7 linked regions of the Homo sapiens genome follow. The protein of the gene in region 1 purifies or fractionates together with the protein of each later gene. This does not show direct contact. Each region holds a gene or a part of one and is shown in the gene's direction. Other genes may lie near its edges. The genes, in order: LAD1, MAEA, ARMC8, PCYT2, RMND5A, FLNC and FLNB.

Evidence for each region.
Region 2: the proteins of LAD1 (region 1) and MAEA purify together in Homo sapiens (affinity purification with western blotting; one study listed by BioGRID). This does not show direct contact.
Region 3: the proteins of LAD1 (region 1) and ARMC8 purify together in Homo sapiens (affinity purification with mass spectrometry; one large-scale study listed by BioGRID and IntAct). This does not show direct contact.
Region 4: the proteins of LAD1 (region 1) and PCYT2 fractionate together in Homo sapiens (co-fractionation; one large-scale study listed by BioGRID). This does not show direct contact.
Region 5: the proteins of LAD1 (region 1) and RMND5A purify together in Homo sapiens (affinity purification with mass spectrometry; one large-scale study listed by BioGRID and IntAct). This does not show direct contact.
Region 6: the proteins of LAD1 (region 1) and FLNC purify together in Homo sapiens (affinity purification with mass spectrometry; one large-scale study listed by BioGRID and IntAct). This does not show direct contact.
Region 7: the proteins of LAD1 (region 1) and FLNB purify together in Homo sapiens (affinity purification with mass spectrometry; one large-scale study listed by BioGRID and IntAct). This does not show direct contact.

What each region holds. Positions count from the first base shown.
Region 1 is NC_000001.11:201,389,325-201,392,824, reverse strand, and holds part of LAD1 (ladinin-1), read left to right. Parts: intron 1-3,500. UniProt on the Homo sapiens protein: Anchoring filament protein which is a component of the basement membrane zone.
Region 2 is NC_000004.12:1,320,891-1,324,390, forward strand, and holds part of MAEA (E3 ubiquitin-protein transferase MAEA), read left to right. Parts: intron 1-1,490; coding exon 1,491-1,613; intron 1,614-3,500.
Region 3 is NC_000003.12:138,242,801-138,246,300, forward strand, and holds part of ARMC8 (armadillo repeat-containing protein 8), read left to right. Parts: intron 1-2,287; coding exon 2,288-2,383; coding exon of another isoform or gene 2,384-2,449; exon of another isoform or gene 2,450-3,500. UniProt on the Homo sapiens protein: Component of the CTLH E3 ubiquitin-protein ligase complex that selectively accepts ubiquitin from UBE2H and mediates ubiquitination and subsequent proteasomal degradation of the transcription factor HBP1.
Region 4 is NC_000017.11:81,901,400-81,904,899, reverse strand, and holds part of PCYT2 (ethanolamine-phosphate cytidylyltransferase), read left to right. Parts: coding exon 1-67; 3' UTR 68-2,151; coding exon of another isoform or gene 2,152-2,280; 3' UTR 2,281-2,373; coding exon of another isoform or gene 2,374-2,622; 3' UTR 2,623-3,500. Other genes in the region: NPB (neuropeptide B preproprotein), read right to left, coding at 2,152-2,280, 2,374-2,622. UniProt on the Homo sapiens protein: Ethanolamine-phosphate cytidylyltransferase that catalyzes the second step in the synthesis of phosphatidylethanolamine (PE) from ethanolamine via the CDP-ethanolamine pathway.
Region 5 is NC_000002.12:86,723,291-86,726,790, forward strand, and holds part of RMND5A (E3 ubiquitin-protein transferase RMND5A), read left to right. Parts: intron 1-3,500.
Region 6 is NC_000007.14:128,850,906-128,854,405, forward strand, and holds part of FLNC (filamin-C), read left to right. Parts: coding exon 1-38; intron 39-326; coding exon 327-455; intron 456-495; exon of another isoform or gene 496-549; coding exon 550-723; intron 724-1,685; coding exon 1,686-1,847; intron 1,848-1,922; coding exon 1,923-2,126; intron 2,127-2,379; exon of another isoform or gene 2,380-2,492; intron 2,493-2,563; coding exon 2,564-2,716; intron 2,717-2,809; coding exon 2,810-2,932; intron 2,933-3,068; coding exon 3,069-3,311; intron 3,312-3,500.
Region 7 is NC_000003.12:58,168,922-58,172,421, forward strand, and holds the end of FLNB (filamin-B), read left to right. Parts: intron 1-668; coding exon 669-872; intron 873-1,575; exon of another isoform or gene 1,576-1,653; coding exon 1,654-1,841; 3' UTR 1,842-2,855; coding exon of another isoform or gene 2,856-2,952; 3' UTR 2,953-3,149; coding exon of another isoform or gene 3,150-3,240; 3' UTR 3,241-3,330; downstream 3,331-3,500. Other genes in the region: uncharacterized protein LOC124909485, read left to right, coding at 2,856-2,952, 3,150-3,240. UniProt on the Homo sapiens protein: Connects cell membrane constituents to the actin cytoskeleton. May promote orthogonal branching of actin filaments and links actin filaments to membrane glycoproteins. Anchors various transmembrane proteins to the actin cytoskeleton.

The sequences.
Region 1 (3,500 bases):
CCTCTCCCCTGGCCCTTTCAATGTTTTTTTTTTTCATACAGCAGCCAGAGAGATTAAAAATAGAGCGATCCCATCATGTTGTTTTTCTGTGTAACACTCTCCAGGGCTCTCCAGCACACCTGGAATAAAACCCAAGTCCTTTCCCTGGTCTCCAAGGCCCTCTGCTCTGGCCTTGCTTCCCTCTCCAGCTTCCCTGTGGGCCACTCTGGCCCTGGTTTCCCGTCTTCCCCTGAATACCCAGCTCCTCACATGCAGGCTCTGCACTGGCTGGATCCTCCTCCTGGAACACTGGCTGACGGATCTGGCTCTGCTGCCTCCTCCTCATGAACCAGGGCTCTCCGAGGGGGCTTTCCCACCCAGCCACCTTCTCTCATGTCACTTACTTTGTTCCCTTGTCCTAGTGACACTTAGCTGGTGTCATTTTGTTCATGGGCTTGTTTCCTTGCTCATGGTCTGACTCCCCCATGCTGGATGTGTGCCCTGTGAAGGGGAAGACCCTGTTGGTCTCATTCCCAGCTGTTCCCAGCCCCTGGAATCGTGCCTGGTACATAGTAGGTCCTCAAAAGTAATTTTTTAGTGAATATTGGCTCAATCCAGGGGATGCTGGACCTAGAAAAAAATCGGAGCGGTTCATGTGGTTCATCCTTCTCATTTTAGGAGGGAAAACTGAGGAAGAGAAAAGGAAGTAACTTGCCAAAGGGCAGGAGGACTAGAAACCAGATCACCTGACCTTGCCTTACCACAGACTCCCTGTGGAGGAGACAGGCTCAGTGGGAACTAGGGCTGAGCAGCAGGAGAGGCTGGGACAGCAAAGGGTAGAGAGTTTGGCATCTGGCAGTGGCAAGAGGAGGCCTTGCAGTCGTTGCTATAACTCTGGGAGGGAAGAAAGAGGCCTTTTCTAGAACCTTTTAACCTGATTTGCAGACAATGCAGGGGGAACCACAGAGAAGGGCTCCCCCAGCTGACTTTCACAGCCTGGTACTCCCCTGCTCACACCCCCTCCTGTCTCCCGGGGTGAAGCTCAGCCTCCTGTCCCCAGCAAACCCTGAACCTCGGTACCTTCCCTCTGCCTGGACTGCCAGCCCCACCCCATCGAAAGCCTGTTTGTTCACTGAGATGCAGCCCGGTTCATCTCTTCCATGAGCCTTTTCTGATAATCTTGGCCTATAGCATCTGTTCTCTCACACTGAAGAACAACTTATGCACTTTGGTTGGGGGAGTTATTGGTGGACACACTTCTCTTTTTCACTGGATTGTCAATATCTCCAGGGCAGAGACCCTGCCATGTTCTGTGATGCCCACACAGTTCCTGACATGGTGCTGGCTTGTCATAGTCATTCAGTTTTCATTTGCTGTTTGGTTGGACTGGAAGGGGTGGGGTGGATGGAAGATGGGCTGGTGGGAGGTGGTAGGTAGGGCAGGTGGATAAAGATGGTGGAAACAGCTGAGTGGCTGAGTACATGGATGTGTGGGCGAGTAGTAGATGGATAGACTGGTGGAGTTGCCTGGCTGGCTGTAGAATGCCTGCTTGGCCCCATGAATGAAGGGTGACTGGGGCAGGAACCAAAAGTAGAGTGTGGGGTCCCCTTGCTCCCCAGAGAAGTGAAAGTTGTCTGGATTTTCATCCAGATCTGTGGAGCTCCATGGCTCAACTCTTTCCACGAAGCTCTTTCCATCTGAAAGGTGAGGGAGGCTCCAAGAGCCCCTGGGAAGTGAAAGGAAGGCGATATTGGAGTTTTTTCCATGGGTAAATGGTTTTGTTTGTAAGTCTTCCCTTCCCAAAAGCTAAGAAATTCCATGGGGAATTGAGTGAGGAAATATCTCCATGACTGTCCACTGATGGATATTACCTAAGAATCCCAGGACCAAAAAGAGAAAGGCACTTGGCAAGTTCATCTGTTTCCTTCAGGCAGGACCAGGCCCGCCCTTCCACGTTCCTAGTCACCCCCGGTGATGGAGGCCCTCCCATTCTCATCCCGGGGTCCAGAGTACAGTTCAACCCAGTGGTTCCTATGTGGGGTGACTTTGCCCCCCAGGAGACATTTGGCAATGTCAGGAAACATTTTGGTTGTCCCATCTGGGGCATGTACTACTGGCACCCAGCAGGTAGAGGCTAGAGATGCTGCTAAACGTCCTGTGATCCAGGACAGCCCTGGACACGCAATTGTCTGGCCAAAGTGTCAACAGTGCTGAGCTGGAGAAACCCCAGTCTAATCCAAAGCCCTGCAGCTTTACTAGGAATTTGATAGACGTATGATTTGAACTACATTTAAAATGTTAAGTTTTTTTTGAGATGGAGTTTCACTCTTGCCCAGGCTGGAGTGCAATGGCACTATCTCGGCTCACTGCAACCTCTGCCTCCCAGGTTCGAGCAATTCTCTGGCCTCAGCCTCCCGAGTAGCTGGGATTATAGGCATGCACCGCTATGCCCAGCTAATTTTTTTTTTTTTTTTTGTATTTTTAGTAGAGACAGGGTTTCACCAAGTCTTGATCTCTGGTGATCCACCCTCCTCAGCCTCCCAAAGTGCTGGGATTACAGGTGTGAGCCACCGCGCCCGGCCTAAAATGTTAAGTTTTTGAGTAGTCACATTAAAAAAGTAAAAAGCAGCCCAGCACAGTGGCTCATGCCTGTAATCCCAGCACTTTGGGAGGCCAAGGTGGGAGGATTGCTTGAGCCCAGGAGTCTAGGACCAGCTGAGCAACATTGTGAGACCTCATTTCTACAAAAAATCTAAAAATTAACCAGGTGTAGTGGTGCACACCTGTAGTCCTAGCTACTCAGGAGGCTGAGGTGGGAGGATCACTTGAGCCTGGGAGGTTGGGGCTGCAGTGAGCTGTGATTGTGCCACTGCACTCCAATCTGAGCAACACAGCGAGATCCTGTTTCAAAAAAAAGGAAAAAACAAAATTAATTTTAATATTATAGCTCATTTACCCCAATATATCCACAATATTGCCACTTCAACACACAATCAATATACACAATTTTTTTCTTTCTTTTTTGAGACAGAGTCTTGTTGTGTCACCCAGGCTGGAGTGCAGTGACACAATCTCGACTCACTGCAACCTCTGCCTCCTGGGTTCAAGTGATTCTCGTGCCTCAACCTCCTCAGTAGCTGGGACTACAGGTGTGCACCACCACACCCGGCTAATCTTTTTTTTTTTTTTGTATTTTTGTAGAGATGGAGGTTGCCATGTTGCTCAAGCTGGTCTCAAACTCCTGAGCTCAGGCAATCCGCGTGTCTCAGCCTCCTAAAGTGCTAGGATCATAGGCATGAGCGACCGCGCCTGGCCGATGTACATAGTTCTTAATGAGACCTTTCACTGGTCTTCAAGATCCAGTGTGTATTTCACACAGCATGCCTTGGTTCACACCAGCCACGTTTCAAGCACTTCTGAGCTGCTAGTAGCCAGTGCAGGCCTAGAGGGCATTTGGTCTCTTCTCCCAGCCCTAGAGGAGCCTGCCTCGGGAGGGTCCTGGGTTTCCCCAGCTGTGCTGA
Region 2 (3,500 bases), on another chromosome or scaffold:
GAGATCGAGACCATCCTGGCTAACACGGTGAAACCCTGTCTCTACTAAAAATACAAAAATTTAGCCGGGCGTGGTGGCAGGCGCCTGTAGTCCCAGCTACCCGGGAGGCCAAGGCAGGAGAATGGTGTGAACCCAGGAGGCGGAGCTTGCAGTGAGTGGAGATTGCGCCACTGCACTCCAGCCTGGGCGGCAGAGCGAGACTCCGTCTCAAAAAAACAAACAAAAGCACACATGCAAGAAAATGCTTTGAAGGGGCTTCAGAAAAGAATAATCAACATGCAAGAAAACGCTATGAAGGGGCTTCAGAAAAGAAATCATCAAAGCAAATGTGCAAGAAAACGCTATGAAGGGGCTTCAGAAAAGAAATCATCAAAGCAAACGTGCAAGAAAACGCTATGAAGGGGCTTTAAAAAAGATATCATCAAAGCAAACATGCAAGAAAACGCTATGAAGGGGTTTCAGAAACGAGAAACCGTTAAAGAAAAGATGCAAGGAAACAACACTGTGAGGGGTTTCAGAAAAGAGAAATCATCAAAGCAAACATGCAAGAAAATGCTATGAAGGGGTTTCAGAAACAAGAAATCATGAAAGAAAAGGTGCAAGAAAACAACGTTATGAGGGGTTTCAGAAAAGAGTAATCATCAAAGAAAACAGCGCATCTGTGAGGCCGGTGGTCCAGACGTGGGGCTGTGGGACCCAAGTGGTGAACTGTGGCCTCATCCTGGGCCGTTGGGTCCTGGGCTATGTGCAGGCGGAGGTGCCGTCCTTGGTCCCACTGGGGAAGGTCGGGAGTCATTGCTGCTGAGGACCACCTGAGCGCTTGCCCCAAGCCTTGCCGTGCCTGGTGGAGTCCCGTACCAGCTGCTGTCCTGCCCCTGCCAGAGACCATGGGTTCCACTGCTAGGCACTGAGCACCCACCCCCTGTGCCCGGCCACTAGCGGAGACTTGATGCTAAGCCTGGGTTACTCTGTTTTTTTTGTTGTTTTTTTTTTTTTTCTTTGCTTTCATATAAATCATTGGTTGTAACTACCGCGATATTAGCCATAATGTGTTTATGTATTATTTAGCATGTTATTATTTGCTTACTGTTGATTTTGAAATGAGGGGGCTGCCCAGGGAGGGCCTGTAGATGTGCTGGGGGGCTGTGGGGAGTGGAGACAGGGCCGCCTGGCATGTGGCCTGGCCCTGCCTGCATGTGTGTCTCAGCAGCTCCTCTCCATGGACAGGTGGGGCCAGCCTGGCTCCCTTGCCCGGCTATGGCTGCTGTCTACGTGAGCGTCCGACCTTTTGGTCCTTGGGGGCTGTTCTGTTCCTAGGATCTCAGAGCGGCCCTGAGTAGTCCACGAGTGCAGACCCACAGTGTGGACTGGAGATGCATCTCGAGTGGTGGCCGGTGCTGGGCCTGCCTCATGGAGGCTGGGGTGTGGGAGGGTGGCATGGGGGCCTTGAGCCAGCACATTCTGATCAGGTGCTGCTTCCTTCCTCTAAGGACCTAGTGAATATTGAGATGTTCCTGACGGCCAAAGAGGTGGAGGAGTCCCTGGAGAGGCGTGAGACGGCCACCTGCCTGGCCTGGTGCCATGACAACAAGTCCCGGCTCCGGAAGATGAAGGTGCACGGACTCCCAGGTTGGGGTGGGAGTGGGTCGGGGCCGAGGCTGCGCCACCTGCCCTGGAGCCAGCACCCCCTTGCCTGGTGGTTCACAGTAGTTTGGTTTTGGTTTGTAAGGTGGGGGTTGGGTTTGGGAGTTTTTTTGGTGGCTGTGTTACACTTTTAGGCTAAAATCTGGAAAAGTGCACCTCATTTGGCATTACAGTTTGTGTACAGCTGGCATGAGGCTCAGAAGGAGTGGGTTACAGGAGGCTGACCATGTGCACACAGAGTGTTGGGGCTGCTGGGCTTAGAGCCTGGAGACAGGTCAGTCCTGCTCCATGGGGGTACTCCATGGGCTCCCTGTGCTCAGTCATAGACACAGAAAAGCTGGTTGGGAAGTCATTCTCCATCTGCGAGGCTGCAGAGCTCTGGGCTGTGATATTGTTAATGAATACCCACTTTTTTTTTTTTTTTTTTTTTTTTTTTTTTGAGACGGAGTCTCGCTTTGTCGCCAGGGTGGAGTGCAGTGGCACGATCTTGGCTCACTTGCCTCCGGTGTTCAAGCGATTCTCTTGCCTTGGCCTCCTGAGTAGCTGGGATTATAGGCATGCGCCACCATGCCCGGCTAATTTTTGTATTTTTAGTAGACATGGGATTTCACCACGTTGGCCAGGATGGTCTTGATCTCCTGACCTTGTGATCCACCTGCCTCAACCTCCCAAAGTGCTGGGATTACAGGCGTGAGCCACCGTGCCCGGCCGAGTACCGACTTTTGTAGAGACCAAAAGAAGCTTAAGAAATGGACTCCTAAAGGACAAAATTTAAACCTGCTTATTAAAAGGCATTGTCACCCTAGGGGCTTGCAGAAATGTTTTAACTTATGTTAACACTTCTGCCTCCATTAGCAAAACTTTTCTGTCTTCTAAACTGAGCGCTGCTTTAACCTCACCCTGGCTGAGTTTGGCAGGGTGCACGCAGTTACCAGCCAGGAGTGACACACTGCCACTCAGGGCCGCCAAAACAAGCACGAAGCAAAGACGGGACGAAAAAGTAGAGCGGCTAGTAGCTCCCCTAAAGAGAGTTTGGACCTTGGTATGGAAACCCTAAAAGGAAAGCCAGAATTGGTATGTAACCTGCGGCCCCACTACACAGTGCCAGCCCCACACTCCCTCCCAGAGAGCCGGCACACACCTCACAGTGGGAACTCTGCCAGGGCTGTTTCCTGTGGATGTCAGAGGGAAGATAGGTTCTTGGTGCTGCCAGGATATTCCTGCAAGCCCTAATTACCTGCCGGACAGTGTTGCTGGAGGGTGTTGGAGGCTTGCCACGAGCACACGACCTGTCTGAAGCTGCTGTGGGGACAGGCAGGGCCAGGACTCGGGGCCCTGAATGCATGCCTGGGGGACGAGTGTGCCTGGTGTTGGATGAAGTTGAGATTGGATGCCTGGTGGATGAGCGTGCCTGGTGTTGGATAAGTTGAGATTGGGTGAGCATGCCTTGTGTTGGATGAGTTGAGATTGGATGAGCGTGCTTGGTGTTGGATGAAGTTGAGATTGGATGCCTGGTGGATCAGTGTGTCTGGTGTTGGATGGAGTTGAGATTGGATGCCTGGTGGATGAGTGTGCCTGGTATTGGATGAAGTTGAGATTGGATGCCTGGTGGATGAGTATGTCTGGTGTTGGATGAAGTTGAGATTGGATGCCTGGTCAATGAGTGTGCCTGGCGTTGGATGAGTTGAGATTGGATGCCTGGTGGATGAGCGTGTCTGGTGTTGGATGAGTTGAGATTGGATGCCTGGTGGATGAGTGTGTCTGGTGTTGGATGAAGTTGAGATTGGTTTGGATGAAGTTGAGATTGGATGCCTGGTGGACGAGTGTGTCTGGTGTTGGATGAAGTTGAGGTTGGA
Region 3 (3,500 bases), on another chromosome or scaffold:
GTTGTTCATTTGGCTTTTAACTTTGAAAATAAAGCAAACTATTAAGGGTATATCTTTACTCTGTCTTAAGAAGGGCCTAAAATAACCTTCACTGGTATTTGTATTAGTAATGTACTCTACTCTCTGGGTATTAAACTTATGTGTCTGCTCTTCTTTCAGTAGTGGTGTTTTTCCAGTAGAAGTGATGGGTTACATACATTTAACCAGTTGCCTTGTCTGTTTTCCTTCTGGTCATTTTTTCACACTGACACTGTATCTTACCAATACAAAGATACATGAGCAACCCTTAGCTACTGCCTCATGAACGCCCTGAGTTGACCACCCCAGGAAGGCAAATAAAATGTTTTGATGGCCATGAGAGTAAGGAAACAATTTTAAGAACATGTAGCCTATGCATATGCAAATCATTTAACTAGTACGTAGATTATCCCTTCTGTTAGTTTTTCCATTTCATTTCCATCAGAGTAAAACTGTAACAACAATAATCCTTAAAAATGACATCGTAATACCAAACTTGAGTAATAGTTTGTTTTGTCATCTTTATTTTTGATGATGGATTATCCAAAGGTTTCTGACCCGAAAAGTATAGACACTAGACCCGTAAAGAGAAATCTTCACATGTTAATAAATTTGTGATTTTCATGATATGTTAGTTCAAGTCAGTATTATATCTTAATTTATGACTAGAATGTAGTTAAGACTTTAAGAGTAGATACTTTTAGAACTTATCAAAGTGAGTATTCTGTATTGGGAAGTTCTTCCTATAATCCATCAGTGTCTGCTTTGAACAGAAGTTTTGGAACTATTAAGAATTGCCTTCAGAGCCACCCCAAATTATATATATATGTAAAATATATATATTGTCTTTTGCTTTCTGTGGAATTTTTTGTTACCTACGTTATATTACCCAACTGAATTTCTCCATCTTCACACACAGTCAGTGACAACTAAAAGTCTCATCATTGATCAAGCTATACCACTGTCAGTGTTTTCTAGCTAATAATACCAGTTAGCTCTTTAGGAAGTTTCAAAAGAGGGTCTCAGAATGTTATGAACAACACCTACATCATTGGATGAGTGAACCTTTCCAAAGTAACTTCTTTGGGAAAAGTGGTATTCATTTGGATGATTACATTAAGGCTTTTAGTTACGAGGTTATTTATATTATTGGTAGACTTTGTATAGTTACTTGGTCATAGTCAGTCATTGAAAGTATCCTGAAAATATGCTTCTGTTTTATCTTTACAGTAGTTTGGTGATCAAGTTTATAGAAGAGTTGATAATTAGTTATGCATGTTTAAAGATACCATTAATTGCTTCATGCTGATAATTTTGATAATGTTCTTGAAAAAACCCATACCCAACATAAATCTCAGATAACTGTAATAGATAATAATGGTTACCATAGTATACGGTTTGTTAAGCATTTTCACAATGGGTTCTCTGTTTCTAAAAGCTTTTTATTTTATTTATTTTTATTTATTTATTTATTTTTGAGATGTAGTCTCGCTCTGTTGCCCAGGCTAGAGTGCAGTGGCGCGATCTCGGCTCACTACAACCTCTGCCTCCTGGGTTCACACCATTCTCCCGCCTCAGCCTCCCAAGTAGCTGGGACTACAGGCGCCTGCCACCACGCCCAGCTCATTTTTTTGTATTTTTAGTAGAGACAGGGTTTTATCGTGTTAGCCAGGATGGTCTAGATCTCCTGACCTCATGATCCATCTGCCTCGGCCTCCCAAAGTGCTGGGATTACAGGCGTGAGCCACCGCGCCCGGCCTCTAAAAGCTTTTTAAATGCCAAAATTAGGCCAGCACTACTCTTAATGTTTCAGAAAATTAAGGGAACCCTCCTAAAGACATTGTTGCGATTTCATTCAGGTTATCAGCTGTAGTCTGGGGCTAGAGAAGTCCAGGTGTGCCTTCTTTTGAAGGAGAACATTTCAAAGAGCTGCTGCAAGCAAGCATTAGTGCCAGTAAAGCTACCATTTAGGAACACTGAATTTTTCGGAGTCAGAGATTCACAATGGTTTTTCATATATCAGTGTCAAATATAGTGTTCACTTTTAAATGGAAGCATATTGTGTGCATTTTAGGTCACATTGATACGAACACTGCAAAGTCTCAGTGCTATGTGAACAGAATCCAAAAATAACTGGGAAATGTAGTTAATGACTGGGAAATTCACTAAAATCTAAAAGTTGTAAACTTTTTTTTTCTTCAACTCAGTTAATGTTATTGAAAGTTGAATTTATGGACTGAGTTGGAACATATCCTTTTTTTCCCCATAGCTTGATCATGATTTAAAACATGCTCACGAACTCCGCCAGGCTGCATTCAAGCTCTATGCCTCTCTTGGAGCAAATGATGAAGACATCCGGAAGAAGGTGAGTCTGGGAGAGGGGCGTCCCCCAGTCCTGACAGCCAGCAGGCAGGGAGTGACGTCAACCTGAAAGTCGTGGTGAAGAGCACTAACAGTGACTGTTTGAATATAATAAAGCAGAGTGACTAAAGGCATAATTGAAGAATGAATGGGACCCGGATTTGGGGGGTTGTTTGTTTGTTTTTAGAACATAGAGTGGCATGGCCGTGCTGGAATGACAAATAACTGGCGTGCTTTTTTTTTGTGTCATTAATATGAATTATTATGTTGCACATTTTTGCATGTGTTCTGATAAAAATCAATTCTAGCACTGTGAAGCTTCAGACACCTTGAAAGTCCTAACATTAGAATTGTAAATGTTATTTATGGAAATACCTTCCAATGCTATTGAGAAATTCAAATCTCTATTGTATATTGTTCTTTGATATGTGGCTTAGTTTTATGTTTTGATTTTTTTTGCTACTGTGCAAGTTTAATGTGAATAAAATCTTTGTGGAATGATGATTTTATGTTTAGTGAGTGGTCATCTGAATTTTCCAGCTCCCCAGAAAATGTATGCACTGGTATAGCACCCTTATGTTACTAAAGCCTAGTCTAACACTGAACTCATGTTCTTGATGAGAATACTTCTAGATGAGGAGTATAGTGGTAAGTAAGCTCTGACTTGGCTCCTTCCACAAACCAAAAAGCTGGAACTTACCACTCAAAAACATGTATAACCTAATAAATTCTACACAAGGCTTTCAAGACCATCAGAGAGCAAAACCACATGTTCTGTCTTGAGGAGCCATAGCAGAAAGAGCAAATTAGTCATTATTTACTGAACATGATGATTTACTAAATCTCTCCATCTGCATTAGTATTTTAAGGAGCACTGTGAGAGAAATCACAAAGTATTAGAGTTTACCATGATTCAGAGAAGTTCTTCAGGCCTGTAGAAAGAGGAGTATGGAACAACCTTACATTTGTTGAAATAACTTGAAAAGGAACCATTTCTTGAAGAAACTGAAGTAATAGCAATAAGATTTGATGTGTGAGTAGCTTTGATTTAAAATCAATGCAAAAAGCACAACTAATAAATTGAATGTTTCCATGTACCTCACTTTATTTCAGTTAACAAG
Region 4 (3,500 bases), on another chromosome or scaffold:
GGCCTTCCTGGAGGCTGCCAGGCAGCAGGCGGCACAGCCCCTGGGGGAGCGCGATGGTGACTTCTAACCTGGCAGAGGCCCTGGCCGGCCCTCCCCCTGCTCTGCTTCTGCGCCTTCTGCGTTTGGACATAGGACTCTGCAGGGCCGCCCTCTCTAACTGGCCTGGCTCTGGAAGGGCTGGTGAGGACTCTGCCTCCTTGCCTGCCTACAAGGTGCCTGGTTTGCAGCAGGCTCTCCGCTCTTTCCAGCAAAGCTGCTCAGAGAGGGTGTCCAGCACAGTGGAGAGGCCGGAAGTGAGACGGGCAGACGGCACCTGCAGCCTGAAACGCACCGCTCCTGCGTGCGCCCCCACCTGGTCCCCGGATGCCCCCACCACCTGGACAGAGGCCACACTGACTGCCCACCCAGCTGTGGCGGGAGGTGCAGAGCAGAGGGCTTTAGGGAGCAGTGACTGCGGTCACCCCTTTAGTTCTCTGGGTGTAGACCACACCACCTCCCACTGGGCACCCCCCAACACGGTGTCCTGCCACCCAGCGCCTGGCTCCAGGAAAACACGCTTGCCTTCCTTCCCGGCAGCTTCGCCACTCTCCTTATGGACTCTGTTCTGTTTGTACATGGCTGACGGAAATCTCTTTGGTACAACCGAATAAAGCCTGGTGGCAGTGCTGCGCGGGGCTCCCAGCCCTGCTGGGAAGGACCAGGGAACCACTCAGCAAGGAGACCCTCTTGGCCCTGCCCCCACCATGCACCCAGCAGCCGGGAGTGCAGCGGGCAGCCTGGCAGTGAGTGAAACCCAGGCCTCCAGCCCTCCAAAGCCTGGGGCCACCCCCTGTAGCAGGCGATGCTAGAATAAGGAGGAGAGCCAGAGCTGAGGCTCCTTGCCCCTTGGCCCCTCCAGGGGCCATGGGATCTCTGTCTCCCACACCCCTGTCACGGCCCGCCTGGAGCAGCCCAGAGGCCGAAGAGGTTCTTACTGCAGCCTCCGGGAGGTGTCTAGGGAGGCCATAGATTGCCTGGTCTCGCCGCATTCAAAATGAGGCTTATGATCAGTACTTTTTTCAGCCCCACATTCCTCTCCAGAATGGCCTCTGCCCTACAGCACCTGGCCCATGTGGCACCCCATGGGCCTGTCCTCTGCTGTTGTGAGGTCGACCTCACGACCCAGCACAGGAGCTGGAGGCGAGGTGCACGCGAGGCTCTCCACAGCCCAGGAAGGCAGCCTGTCACCCTGCTCTCCGAGCCAGGGGCCAAGGTGTGGGGGGCACAGGCCATCCTCATCCTGCCAGGCCCCCGCTTTCAGGAGTGGGGTGGTGCCAATGCTCCCACTCAGAACCCTGGACTGCGGGGTCCCCTGAGCAGAGGGACCAGCCAGTTCCCCATAGACAGATTGGTGCTGGACAGGGGCTGCCTGGGCCCCAGGCTTGGGGAGGGTAGAAAGGCCCTGCAGTGCTGCTGCCTGGGCCCGGAGGTGGGCCTGGCCCCGTAGCAGCATTGGAGGCCAGAGCCCAAGCCAGTTCCGGAGTCACACCCAACGGCGGAGGGAGAACCTACCCATCTCCCACCTTCAGCTCTGGGGAGGCATGCTCTGGGCCTCTGGAGCCAGGGCTCAGGCCCCCAACTCTCCTCCTTGCCCCTGCACCCTCGGACTTGGCCTGGCCAGAAGGGATGGGGGCAAGAGGAAGGCAGCCAGGGGCTCCAGCCCATGCCCTCACAGATTTGGCTCTCGAGTTGGGGAGCGAAGGGCTGGGGGAGGACACTGGGAACCGGGCCAGCCGTGGCCCTGCACTTCCCCCAGGGAGCACCAAGGCTAGGCGCGGCTTCACCGCGGGGCTGGGTCGTGGCCAGCTTCGCCCCTGGGTCTGAAGACCTCTGGGCGGCCCAGGCCAACCTTGCCCTGCCGCCGCACACTCGGCTGCCTTCTCATACCCAGGCTTGGGGATTTCCAGGTCCCGTTCCCCTCGTGGCCTGGCTGCCAGTCCTCCAGCACCCCTCACTCCGAGGCCGCCTCATTTATTTATTCGTTTGCCATTAACTGCGGGGTGAGCGGAGTAGGGGAGACCTGGGGCGCCATCCCGCGCCGGAGGGGCCTGGGGTCACCGAGTGGGACGGTGGGGGCGGGGGGCCCCCAGCGGTGCCAGGAGAGGTCCGGGCTCAGGCGGCGAGGCAGTCGGCTGCGCGCAGGGACAGGAAGACGTTCGCCTTGCACTGGTAGGTCCCGCGGCCGTCGGGGAGCCGCTCGCACCTCTGCAGGTTTGGGGCGACGTCCTGGACGCACACAGCCTGGGGGGCAGGCAAGCAAAGGCTGAGGGGCCGCCGCACCCCCACCCACGTCCTGCCGCCGCCCCCCATCAGTCCCCGGCACGCCGGACTCACGAGGCTCCGCAGCCTGGGGTGCAGTTGCAGCTCCGGGGAGGCGCCGGCCCCGCCCGGGGGTTCCGCCCCTCTGTAGGGCTGGGAGCGCCGCGCGTACGGGGACCTGCGGAGGCCGGACAGCAGCCCCGCGGCGCGGCCCACCGAGTAGGAGCTGTGCCCCGCCGCTGGCTTGTACCACGCGAGGCCAGGCGGCGCCAGCAGCAGGCACAGCGCCAGGGCGGCGGCCGCCAGTGTCGCGGACCGGGCCATGGGGACGCCGGCTGACTGGTGGGCGGCGGCGTCCGGGCTCGGAGCAGCCACCGCCTGGGCCGCCTTATATCTGCGGCGAGGGCGGGCCGAGGCTGCGGAGGGCCGGGAGGGGCGGCGGGCGGGCTGGGGTGCAGCGGGCGCGCGCGGAGGAGCCGTCGCACCTCCGCATCCCAAAGGAACCAGCCGCGCGGGCGAGCGCTGGAGGCGCGCAAGGATCTGGCGCTTGGTGGGAGCCCAACGCCCCCTCAAGCTCCCCACCCATGCCGCTCGCGCCCTTCAGGCCCGGCTTGCGTGGGCCGCAGTGGCAGCAGGGGAGGGCCCACGGGCGCCCAGCCCTAGGAGTCGTCCCCCAGGCAATCCCCAGTACTCCTGATGCTGGAGAGCCAGCCACACTGCACAGTGCCCCGGGGGCGGTTTCTACCACCCTAAGGGGTATTCTTGGCTCCAGGCATCAGAGTCCATGTGGCTTGTGGGGCCCTCATTTCTTTCATGCCCACTGGGGAAGGTTCCACCAGCAGGGCTGTTACTGGCGGGGTCCTCTGGGAGGGGGGCAAGAAGGCCAGCCACACCAAGGCACTGGAGCTCCACGACTCCTGGCCTTCGATTGGAGGCCCCTCTCTGCCAGCTCTGCCCCTTGGGGGGCACCAGGCAGGACTGCCAGCCGCTCTCCTGGCAGGTGACATCAGCCTTCAAGCTCACTGTGCCCTCACCATTTCATGCTCCCCCAAGGTCCTGGTCATGTCTTCTCTTGGGTATCTTCCCAGGACAGGCACTGGCACTGGAGCCCTGGCACTTGTTTCTGGGTTCCATGCTTCCCAGGTGTGATGGTGAATGCTGAGTGTCAGCTTGACTGGATTGAAGGATGCAAAGTATTGTCA
Region 5 (3,500 bases), on another chromosome or scaffold:
AGGTGATGTGGTAGATATTACATTGAAACTTAAATATGCCCTTCTCAAAGGTATTTTACTGAAAACTGAGTTTGGAACTCTATTTTCAAGTTTAAAGGGAAGATTTTTGGGCTTCTGAATATACCTGTCTGGGCAAATGATTCTGATAACCTGAGAGGCTCTAATTGGGACCCCTCTGTCAGGACTTTGGACCTCATTCTCTGAGATTACTTGTGGTAATACTTGCAAGAATCTGGTATGAATAAAACAGAATTTTTGAGGACTATATAGAACACATCATTGCATCATACTGGTGAATGACTGTTGCAGAAGCATCCTTTAGCCAACCTAAAGGGATTGGTTCAGTTTCTGAGGATGAATGTTTTATGTTAAAATTTTTTTTTCATCTCTGAAGTTGTGAGCAGACAGCTATATACTAAATGAGCTGTTAGGATAGTTTGTGATGGAAACTGATCATACATAAATAAGAGTTTAGTTAGTAAGCCCATTGACAACCCTTTTCTAGTCTCAGCACCCTTATTCCAGATTGTAAATACTGCCTGATTGCTGGCTGGGAGATAGTCCTGCAGTGAGCCCTAAAATTTCTCAGGTGGTCTAAATCACCTTTAAGTAGCTTGAAATTCTTTTACATAAAATTTCTCTCGTTAATCTTTTTTAAAATGCAAGTTTCTTAATGCAGATACACTTGGGGAAATGAGGATAGTATGGGCTGGTCTCTCATACCTGGTGAATTGGTTTGTGCTCTGCCATTTAATCCACCTCTGGCCAAATCCGTCAGCCTGACAACAGGAATATCTTTTTTTTTTTTTCTTTTAAATGGGGTTGGACTGGTATCAGGCCTGCAGCAGAGAACAATAATGGAATATAAGGCTCTGAGAGGGAAGTGCAGGCTTCGACTTGGTGCCATAGACAGTTAGGGAATATTGGTGGTTCAGGGACAACATAGGTGTAATAGAAACATGAAGAGGCAATAAGAACCAGGGAGAATACTGAAGAGCTCTGCCGAGGCCAAGACATTCCTCTCCCTGGAGACTGACTCTAGACTTCTCTTCATGCCTTTGGAATTAGAAACCTTAGGGTGGTAGATAGGAGGGTGGGGAGTGATCCAGAGCCTGCAGTGAGGTGTCCAAGGTAAGAGGAATAGAGATCACAGCTTCTGTCATTTAGTTGTGCCAGCCTTTCAGTGAGAGTTTCCCTGTGAGCACGAAGTTTGGTCTAAGTTCATTGTGGTTAATGTAGGCTGGTGGTCATTCCCAGTGTGCCTCGATCTAATTTGTATAGTGCACTGGTGCTTCTAAAACTTCACTCATACACATGTGCACTCTTATTTTTCAGATGGATTCACGATTTTACTTAAGTAGATTTATCTTAGGCAGTGATATTTGTGTAGTCCTACATGTGGTATGTAGGTATTAGGTATAATAAACTACATGTTAAAATAAATTCATAACAATTAAAATATTAGTTTACATACTAGCTAAAATTACCATTCGCATCAGTGGTATGGGAGCGGTGCTTTGGATAACCCTGGCTTAACAGGGTTAACTACTGTATGGTTAACTTTTAGTGATTTGATTTGTGAGTATATGCCTTTTAGCATTTTTTTCCTATTGGCAAATTTATATTGTTTCCCATTAGCACCTCTGTGGTGGAAGGGAAAAACAGAAAAGAACTATTTATCATGTTTTGCTGGTATTCTGCACTCATACTTTGTGAAAGAAAATTAGGCAGAAACAGTTGGTAATGGTTTCAGGACACATTTAAAAGTATACTTGGGAAAATTGCAGTTTTTGTAAGAGTAAAGGACATGCAGTATTCTTTTCTGATTATTTTTAGACTAACGGAGTTCTAATGTGGTTTCTGAAAGTGACTTTCAAGGAATTTTCTAAATTTAAAATTTATTTATTAATTTTTAGTAAGTCATACATTCAAATGGTATCCATTCAAACAATGAAAAAGATAACCCAGTGAATAGTACATTCAAATGGTATAAACTCAAATGATAAAAAAGGACACCCATTGAAAAATCTTTCTACTCTTGTTCCTGGACCACCTGGTTGCCCACTTCACAGACATAAATGCCAGTCTCCAGAAAAAAAATTTTTTTGTTGTTTTTTGAGACAGCCTCCCTCTGTCACCCAGGCTGGAGTGCAGTGGTGCGATCTTAGCTCACTGCAACCTCCGCCTCCTGGCTTCAGGCAATTCTCCTGCCTCAGCCTCCTGAGTAGCTGGGATTACAGGCACCACCTGCCACCATGCCTGGCTAATTTTTGTATTTTTAGTAGAGACGGGGTTTCAACATGTGGGTCAGGCTGGTCTTGAACACCTGACCTCAAGCAGTCCACGCGCCTCGGCCTTCCAAACTGCAGGGATTACAGGCGTGAGCCACTGCGCCCGACCTCCAGAAAAAATTTTAAAAGAATCCAGTGAAATGACGATTTGTCACTTTTCCTTTTTTCTTTAACGCATCAGATATGTATTTCCATTTACTATGATTAAGGCTTAGTGTTATCTCACTTTGCAAGTTGGTAAAGATGTCTTCATCTGTGGGAGTGATCAACATATACTGTATTAGCACCTAAAACTCCTTTGGTGTGTGTGTATGTTGTGACTTCTAGTAGTAAAACTCATGTAAACCATAACTCCTACCCTTATCTCTTTGGTGAATCAAAGAAACTGTTGAAACTTTGGTTACCAGTTGGAGAACTGCTTTCTTTTTAAAAATGTGAAGGTAACAAATGAGAAGGTAAGTAGGCAAGTAAAACATGAAAAACAAAAAAAGAAACTTGTGGAGGTCACATTTTTAACTCATTGCTGTGGTATGATATTGCATCAGTACACAAAAACCAGAGGTTGAGGGTCGCATGTTAGGTATAATCTTCCAATCTAGAATTTGGGTTGTGTATATTAAACACATGTGTTGAAAAGTATGCTTATTTGTATATATGAATGATCTGTGCTTTTTCAGAGCCGACCAGTGTTGAATATATTGTTTTGAATGAAAGTAAATGTATTATATCGGGGCTTGGTAGACTTGTAGCTTGTTTACCTTTTTAGCCTTATTCTTTGGTGTGCATGGAGTAGGCCTCATAGCCAGGTTGCCCATTTGTTACCCAGACTTTTGCTAAATACTAACAAGACACTCTTGAGAGAATAGTGACTTTGTTTTGAATACAATTTGATATCTGTTTTTAACATCTAGTCTGGAAAATAGTATATCAGTAGGTCATAAATAAAAGTTTGGGAGGACATTGTTCAAACATTCTAAGAGAAGAACAGACTGGTTCTCAAGTTATTTAGGCCATTTTAGGTGGTAAGAATAAAAAGTCAGTATATTGGTGTTTCCAGTTGGGTTTAGAAGTAGATTTAACTTTGTTAGCCATTCTTTTTCCAGACGTACTCTGGAGATAATTAATTCTTTTTTATTTGGCACCGTATTCATTTAGACTGGCAGGTGACATAATAGTGTTCATTAAAATGGAATTTGTTGATGTATAAAT
Region 6 (3,500 bases), on another chromosome or scaffold:
CCAGATGGGGATCAAGTATGACGGCAACCACATCCCTGGTGAGTTAGGGGCTGGGCTGGGCTGGGGCTTGGGTGAGAGGAGCAGGCCGTAGCTTCAGTCCTGCCTTCCCTCTTTCAACAAATATTTATTGAGCACCCGCTGTGTGCAGACACCAGGCGAGGCCCCAGGGAGGCTTATACCCTGGTGGGAAGCAGACCTCCACCAGCTGGGTCCCTACGGCACAGACGGAGGGGGTTGGCAGGGAGGCTGCTGGAAGGTGCTGGGGCCAAGGTGGGCTCAGATAATCCCTGATGCTGACCCAGCCCCCTTTTTCTCTGTATCCCCAGGGAGCCCCTTACAGTTCTATGTGGATGCCATCAACAGCCGCCATGTCAGTGCCTATGGGCCAGGCCTGAGCCATGGCATGGTCAACAAGCCAGCCACCTTCACTATTGTCACCAAAGATGCTGGAGAAGGTGAGGGAGCTGCAGGTCGCAGGCTGGGGTGGAGACTCACCAGGGGCAGGGGTGAGGGCAGGACCTCTGATCTTGGCCACACCTCCACCTACAGGGGGTCTGTCACTGGCCGTGGAGGGCCCATCCAAGGCAGAGATCACCTGTAAGGACAACAAGGATGGCACCTGCACCGTGTCCTATCTGCCGACTGCGCCTGGAGACTACAGCATCATCGTGCGCTTCGATGACAAGCACATCCCGGGGAGCCCCTTCACAGCCAAGATCACAGGTGAGGCGGGTGTATGGGCATGTACAGCCCATGAGGCACACACACCGCATACAGTGCACTCATGTGCAAGCCCAGCCCGTTCAAGTCACTCGTGACATTAGGGCAGAGGCCCTTCAAGGTGTGAGGGGTCATATTTTGATAAATGTAAAAACACTCTGTTCTCCACGGCAGCTAAGAAGCAGTCAGCCACTCCTTGTGCCTGAAAACACATTGCCTCATTTAGTCTTTGAAGTCATTTGTTTTGTTTTTGTTTTTGAGAGGGAGTCTTGCTCTGTCACCCAGGCTGGAGTACAGTGGCACGATCTCGGCTCACTGCAACCTCCGCCTCCCGGGTTCATGCCATTCTTCTGCCTCAGCCTCCCAAGTAGCTGGGACTCCAGGCGCCCGCCACCATGCCTGGCTATTTTTTGTATTTTTAGTAGAGACAGGGTTTCACCGTGTTAGCCAGGATGGTCTCGATCTCCTGACCTTGTGATCCACCTGCCTCGGCCTCCCAAAGTGCTGGGATTACAGGTGTGAGCCACCACGCCCAGCATGAAGTCACTCTTAAGAAGTTAGGGCACGGATAATCCTTTTGATAGATAAGGAACCCCTGTCCCAGAGAGGCCAAGCAACATGATTACAGCCACACAGCGAGGAAGGGGTCTGGGCGGTCCAGTCTAGTGTTTTGTTATCACAACATCATGTGACTCAGGGTTAAAATGCAGGAGGTTTCCTTTAGGGATTTAGCCCACAAGGACTGAGGCAGCCACAGTGGAATTGGGGTACAGGCCCCTCTTAGTCTCTGGCAGCTCACATGTGAGTGCAGACTGCACTTTCCAGGCCTTGGGCCTCCGTGCACCTGGGAGTGGCCCCCCGTGTCTGTTGAGTCCAGGGGGGGCTGCTCAGGAGGGTTCCTGAGCCCTGTGAGGGCAGGGCCTGCCTGGAGTCATAGCAGCCTGATGCCCCAACTCCCCCACCAGGTGATGACTCCATGAGGACCTCACAGCTGAATGTGGGCACCTCCACGGACGTGTCACTGAAGATCACCGAGAGTGATCTGAGCCAGCTGACCGCCAGCATCCGTGCCCCCTCGGGCAACGAGGAGCCCTGCCTGCTGAAGCGCCTGCCCAACCGGCACATTGGTGAGCGTGGGGCCTCACGGGGACCTCAGGGGTGGGGGCCCACAGGATGCTCTGCCTAACACCCACTTTCCACAGGGATCTCCTTCACCCCCAAGGAGGTCGGGGAGCACGTGGTGAGCGTGCGCAAGAGTGGCAAGCATGTCACCAACAGCCCCTTCAAGATCCTGGTGGGGCCATCTGAGATCGGGGACGCCAGCAAGGTGCGGGTCTGGGGCAAGGGGCTTTCCGAGGGACACACATTCCAGGTGGCAGAGTTCATCGTGGACACTCGCAATGCAGGTACCTCCTGCCCCAGAGAGCCCCCATTCCAGCGGGTGCCTCCCACAGGCACTTGTCCTCGTCCTGCCCAGCACCCCCTTGGCCGCACTCTCTCCTCCCTGAAACTTCCTGACCAGTCTGCGTCAGGATTCGCATTCTGGGGCCCCTTGCGGGAAAGTGAATGGCCCCGCATCAGTTCTCTCCCTTTTAAGAGAAAGCTCAGCTGTCCTGAGTTTCTGTCCCTCCCTTGCTCACTGGAATCCAAGAGGCTTACCTTAGGGAATTTTCCAGACCGCCTGTCCCGTGGTGCCCCCGCTCCTCCCACTGAGCCATTTTTGTTAGTGGTCACTACACACATCGGTGCCCATTCTGGGTGGAGCCTGCAGTCTGGGGAGAGGAAAGCATTGTGGCTTGGCCAGCCTAGGACTGAGGGAGATGTGTTCCTTGCTTTCCCCCAGGTTATGGGGGCTTGGGGCTGAGTATTGAAGGCCCAAGCAAGGTGGACATCAACTGTGAGGACATGGAGGACGGGACATGCAAAGTCACCTACTGCCCCACCGAGCCCGGCACCTACATCATCAACATCAAGTTTGCTGACAAGCACGTGCCTGGTAAGGCTCTGGGCAGAGGTCGGTGGCGAGAGACAGGGAGGCCAGGAGGCTGGGGCTCTGAGGTTCCTGACCCACCCTTTGTCCCCACTTCAGGAAGCCCCTTCACTGTGAAGGTGACCGGCGAGGGCCGCATGAAGGAGAGCATCACCCGGCGGAGACAGGCACCTTCCATCGCCACCATCGGCAGCACCTGTGACCTCAACCTCAAGATCCCAGGTAGAAGCCTGGAGGACCCTGGGTGGGGCGGGTGGTGGGAGAGGGCTGGCCCGGGCCAGAGCCCACCTGTCGGGCCTCCACCCTGCTTCCTCACCCCTCGCTTCCCTCCCTCACCCTGGCTCCCTTGACCACACAGGAAACTGGTTCCAGATGGTGTCTGCCCAGGAGCGCCTGACACGCACCTTCACACGCAGCAGCCACACCTACACCCGCACGGAGCGCACGGAGATCAGCAAGACGCGGGGCGGGGAGACAAAGCGCGAGGTGCGGGTGGAGGAGTCCACCCAGGTCGGCGGGGACCCCTTCCCTGCTGTGTTTGGGGACTTCCTGGGCCGGGAGCGCCTGGGATCCTTCGGCAGCATCACCCGGCAGCAGGAGGGTGAGCACCGCACACTGGGCCGGCCGGGTCCTCACGGCGGGATGGGAGGGTGCTGCGGACCAGGCTTGATGCTGGCAGACTGGCCCCGAAGGCCAGGGCAGGTCTGAGCAGAGGAGGAGGTTTAACTGATGGGGGAGGGAAGGGCCAGGGCTAGGAGGAATCCCAGTGTTGCCCTGACATCCCCCAAAC
Region 7 (3,500 bases), on another chromosome or scaffold:
TACGTATTTGTTTAGATCAGGGTCTGAAAAATCCCCTGATTTCTAATTTTCACTTGAAAAATAATCAAAAAGTTTTCCTATACTTATAAAAATGTGTCTCCTCCAAAACACTGGAAAAAATACCAAACTATGAAAACCACTTCACAGCCACCACCCAAGGTAACCACCATAAACACTGTAGTAAATCCCTTCCACACGTCATGATTCACTGTTACATAAAGAATGTAGGTTCATCGCAGGAAAATTAGAAAATTCAGATAGAAAAATCATCCTTTCTCATCCACAGAATCATTTTTTGATATTTCATTATATGTCATCCCAAACTTTTACACTGCTTATACATAGACTATTTTATGTCAATAGAAAGATGTGAATTCCACAGGCACATCTTTGGTGGGTAGGGGGTGGGGGGATTGGGAGGGTCCTTGGCCTTGTCAGCCAAGGCCAGACTCATCCATTTGCCCAGAAAGCCAGATCCTAGTTGTATGGGGGTGGGATCCTAGGGGTTTAGAAGACATTATGGGTGTGAGATACAGGTGTGGTGGCTTTTGTGTTGGGGTGCGCGGGCTCTCCTGGGGTTACTGTGTAGGGTACTCGCCTGTCCTCTGGCTGAGAGACCCCTCTTGATCTGGCCATTCATGCCTGTCCCCCTCCCTCCTGTATCTTAGGCCAGCGTCTAGTTAGCCCTGGCTCAGCCAACGAGACCTCATCCATCCTGGTGGAGTCAGTGACCAGGTCGTCTACAGAGACCTGCTATAGCGCCATTCCCAAGGCATCCTCGGACGCCAGCAAGGTGACCTCTAAGGGGGCAGGGCTCTCAAAGGCCTTTGTGGGCCAGAAGAGTTCCTTCCTGGTGGACTGCAGCAAAGCTGGTAGGTGTCTGGGCCTTTTCAAGGGTGGGGTGGGGCAGGGGCAGGCTGGGCACCCTGGGTACACTGGCCTTCCCTGCTGAGGTCTCCTGCAGTGCCCACCCCCATGTAGGCCAGCCGTTTGCAAGTAACCATCGTCATGACCCTGTTCTCCTGCACTTAATATTTTTAAATGATTTCCTTCTCTTTTGCCTTTTGAACTTGGGTATTTATTTGGGTTTCAAGGGTCGGTTGCCTGGGTTCTGGCATCCAGTACACCTGGGCTGGAAACCTAGTACCGCCACTTCATTCATTCATTCGTTTGTTCTAAAACTTATTTAGCCATGTGACCTTGGAAAGTTATTAAATCTCTTTCCAAAAGTCAGTTTCCTCTTCTCGGAAGTACCTTCCTTAAGGTGCTTGTGAGAGTAAACAAGAAGATTCTCATAGCCAACACTTAGAATAGCCCTTACTGTGTGCTAGGTTTTGACACCCATAACTCTTAAACCTCACAACTAGTTCGTGAGGTATGTGCTGTTCTCATTCCCTGTTTACAGATGGGGAAGCTGAGCTAGGGAGAGGTGAGATTCCAGTCCAAGGTCACCCAGGTAGCAAGTGGCAGGGCAGGGATTCGAACCCACACCGTCAGGCTCTATGAGCCTCTGCTTGTAATTGCCACGCTCTCCCACCTCTTAGGGGCCCCAGCATTATCGTGGAAGCACCTTACCTTTGGCTCTCATATTTCCTCTTCTTCCTGTGCCTGTCCTGATGCATCCGGGTGGAGTAACCACCTTTTGCCTCCTAGGCTCCAACATGCTGCTGATCGGGGTCCATGGGCCCACCACCCCCTGCGAGGAGGTCTCCATGAAGCATGTAGGCAACCAGCAATACAACGTCACATACGTCGTCAAGGAGAGGGGCGATTATGTGCTGGCTGTGAAGTGGGGGGAGGAACACATCCCTGGCAGCCCTTTTCATGTCACAGTGCCTTAAAACAGTTTTCTCAAATCCTGGAGAGAGTTCTTGTGGTTGCTTTTGTTGCTTGTTTGTAATTCATTTTATACAAAGCCCTCCAGCCTGTTTGTGGGGCTGAAACCCCATCCCTAAAATATTGCTGTTGTAAAATGCCTTCAGAAATAAGTCCTAGACTGGACTCTTGAGGGACATATTGGAGAATCTTAAGAAATGCAAGCTTGTTCAGGGGGCTGAGAAGATCCTGAGTACACTAGGTGCAAACCAGAACTCTTGGTGGAACAGACCAGCCACTGCAGCAGACAGACCAGGAACACAATGAGACTGACATTTCAAAAAAACAAAACTGGCTAGCCTGAGCTGCTGGTTCACTCTTCAGCATTTATGAAACAAGGCTAGGGGAAGATGGGCAGAGAAAAAGGGGACACCTAGTTTGGTTGTCATTTGGCAAAGGAGATGACTTAAAATCCGCTTAATCTCTTCCAGTGTCCGTGTTAATGTATTTGGCTATTAGATCACTAGCACTGCTTTACCGCTCCTCATCGCCAACACCCCCATGCTCTGTGGCCTTCTTACACTTCTCAGAGGGCAGAGTGGCAGCCGGGCACCCTACAGAAACTCAGAGGGCAGAGTGGCAGCCAGGCCCACATGTCTCTCAAGTACCTGTCCCCTCGCTCTGGTGATTATTTCTTGCAGAATCACCACACGAGACCATCCCGGCAGTCATGGTTTTGCTTTAGTTTTCCAAGTCCGTTTCAGTCCCTTCCTTGGTCTGAAGAAATTCTGCAGTGGCGAGCAGTTTCCCACTTGCCAAAGATCCCTTTTAACCAACACTAGCCCTTGTTTTTAACACACGCTCCAGCCCTTCATCAGCCTGGGCAGTCTTACCAAAATGTTTAAAGTGATCTCAGAGGGGCCCATGGATTAACGCCCTCATCCCAAGGTCCGTCCCATGACATAACACTCCACACCCGCCCCAGCCAACTTCATGGGTCACTTTTTCTGGAAAATAATGATCTGTACAGACAGGACAGAATGAAACTCCTGCGGGTCTTTGGCCTGAAAGTTGGGAATGGTTGGGGGAGAGAAGGGCAGCAGCTTATTGGTGGTCTTTTCACCATTGGCAGAAACAGTGAGAGCTGTGTGGTGCAGAAATCCAGAAATGAGGTGTAGGGAATTTTGCCTGCCTTCCTGCAGACCTGAGCTGGCTTTGGAATGAGGTTAAAGTGTCAGGGACGTTGCCTGAGCCCAAATGTGTAGTGTGGTCTGGGCAGGCAGACCTTTAGGTTTTGCTGCTTAGTCCTGAGGAAGTGGCCACTCTTGTGGCAGGTGTAGTATCTGGGGCGAGTGTTGGGGGTAAAAGCCCACCCTACAGAAAGTGGAACAGCCCGGAGCCTGATGTGAAAGGACCACGGGTGTTGTAAGCTGGGACACGGAAGCCAAACTGGAATCAAACGCCGACTGTAAATTGTATCTTATAACTTATTAAATAAAACATTTGCTCCGTAAAGTTGCCTTGGTGTTCTTGGATGATGTCGCTTCTGAATAAATTGTTTAATCCTAGGAGTTCAACACCCTCAGCCTGGGTAACAGCAAGACCCAGCCTCTACAAAAAATTAAAAAATTAGCCAGCATGGTGATGCATGCCTGCAGTCCCAGCTACTCAGGAGGCGGAGGCAG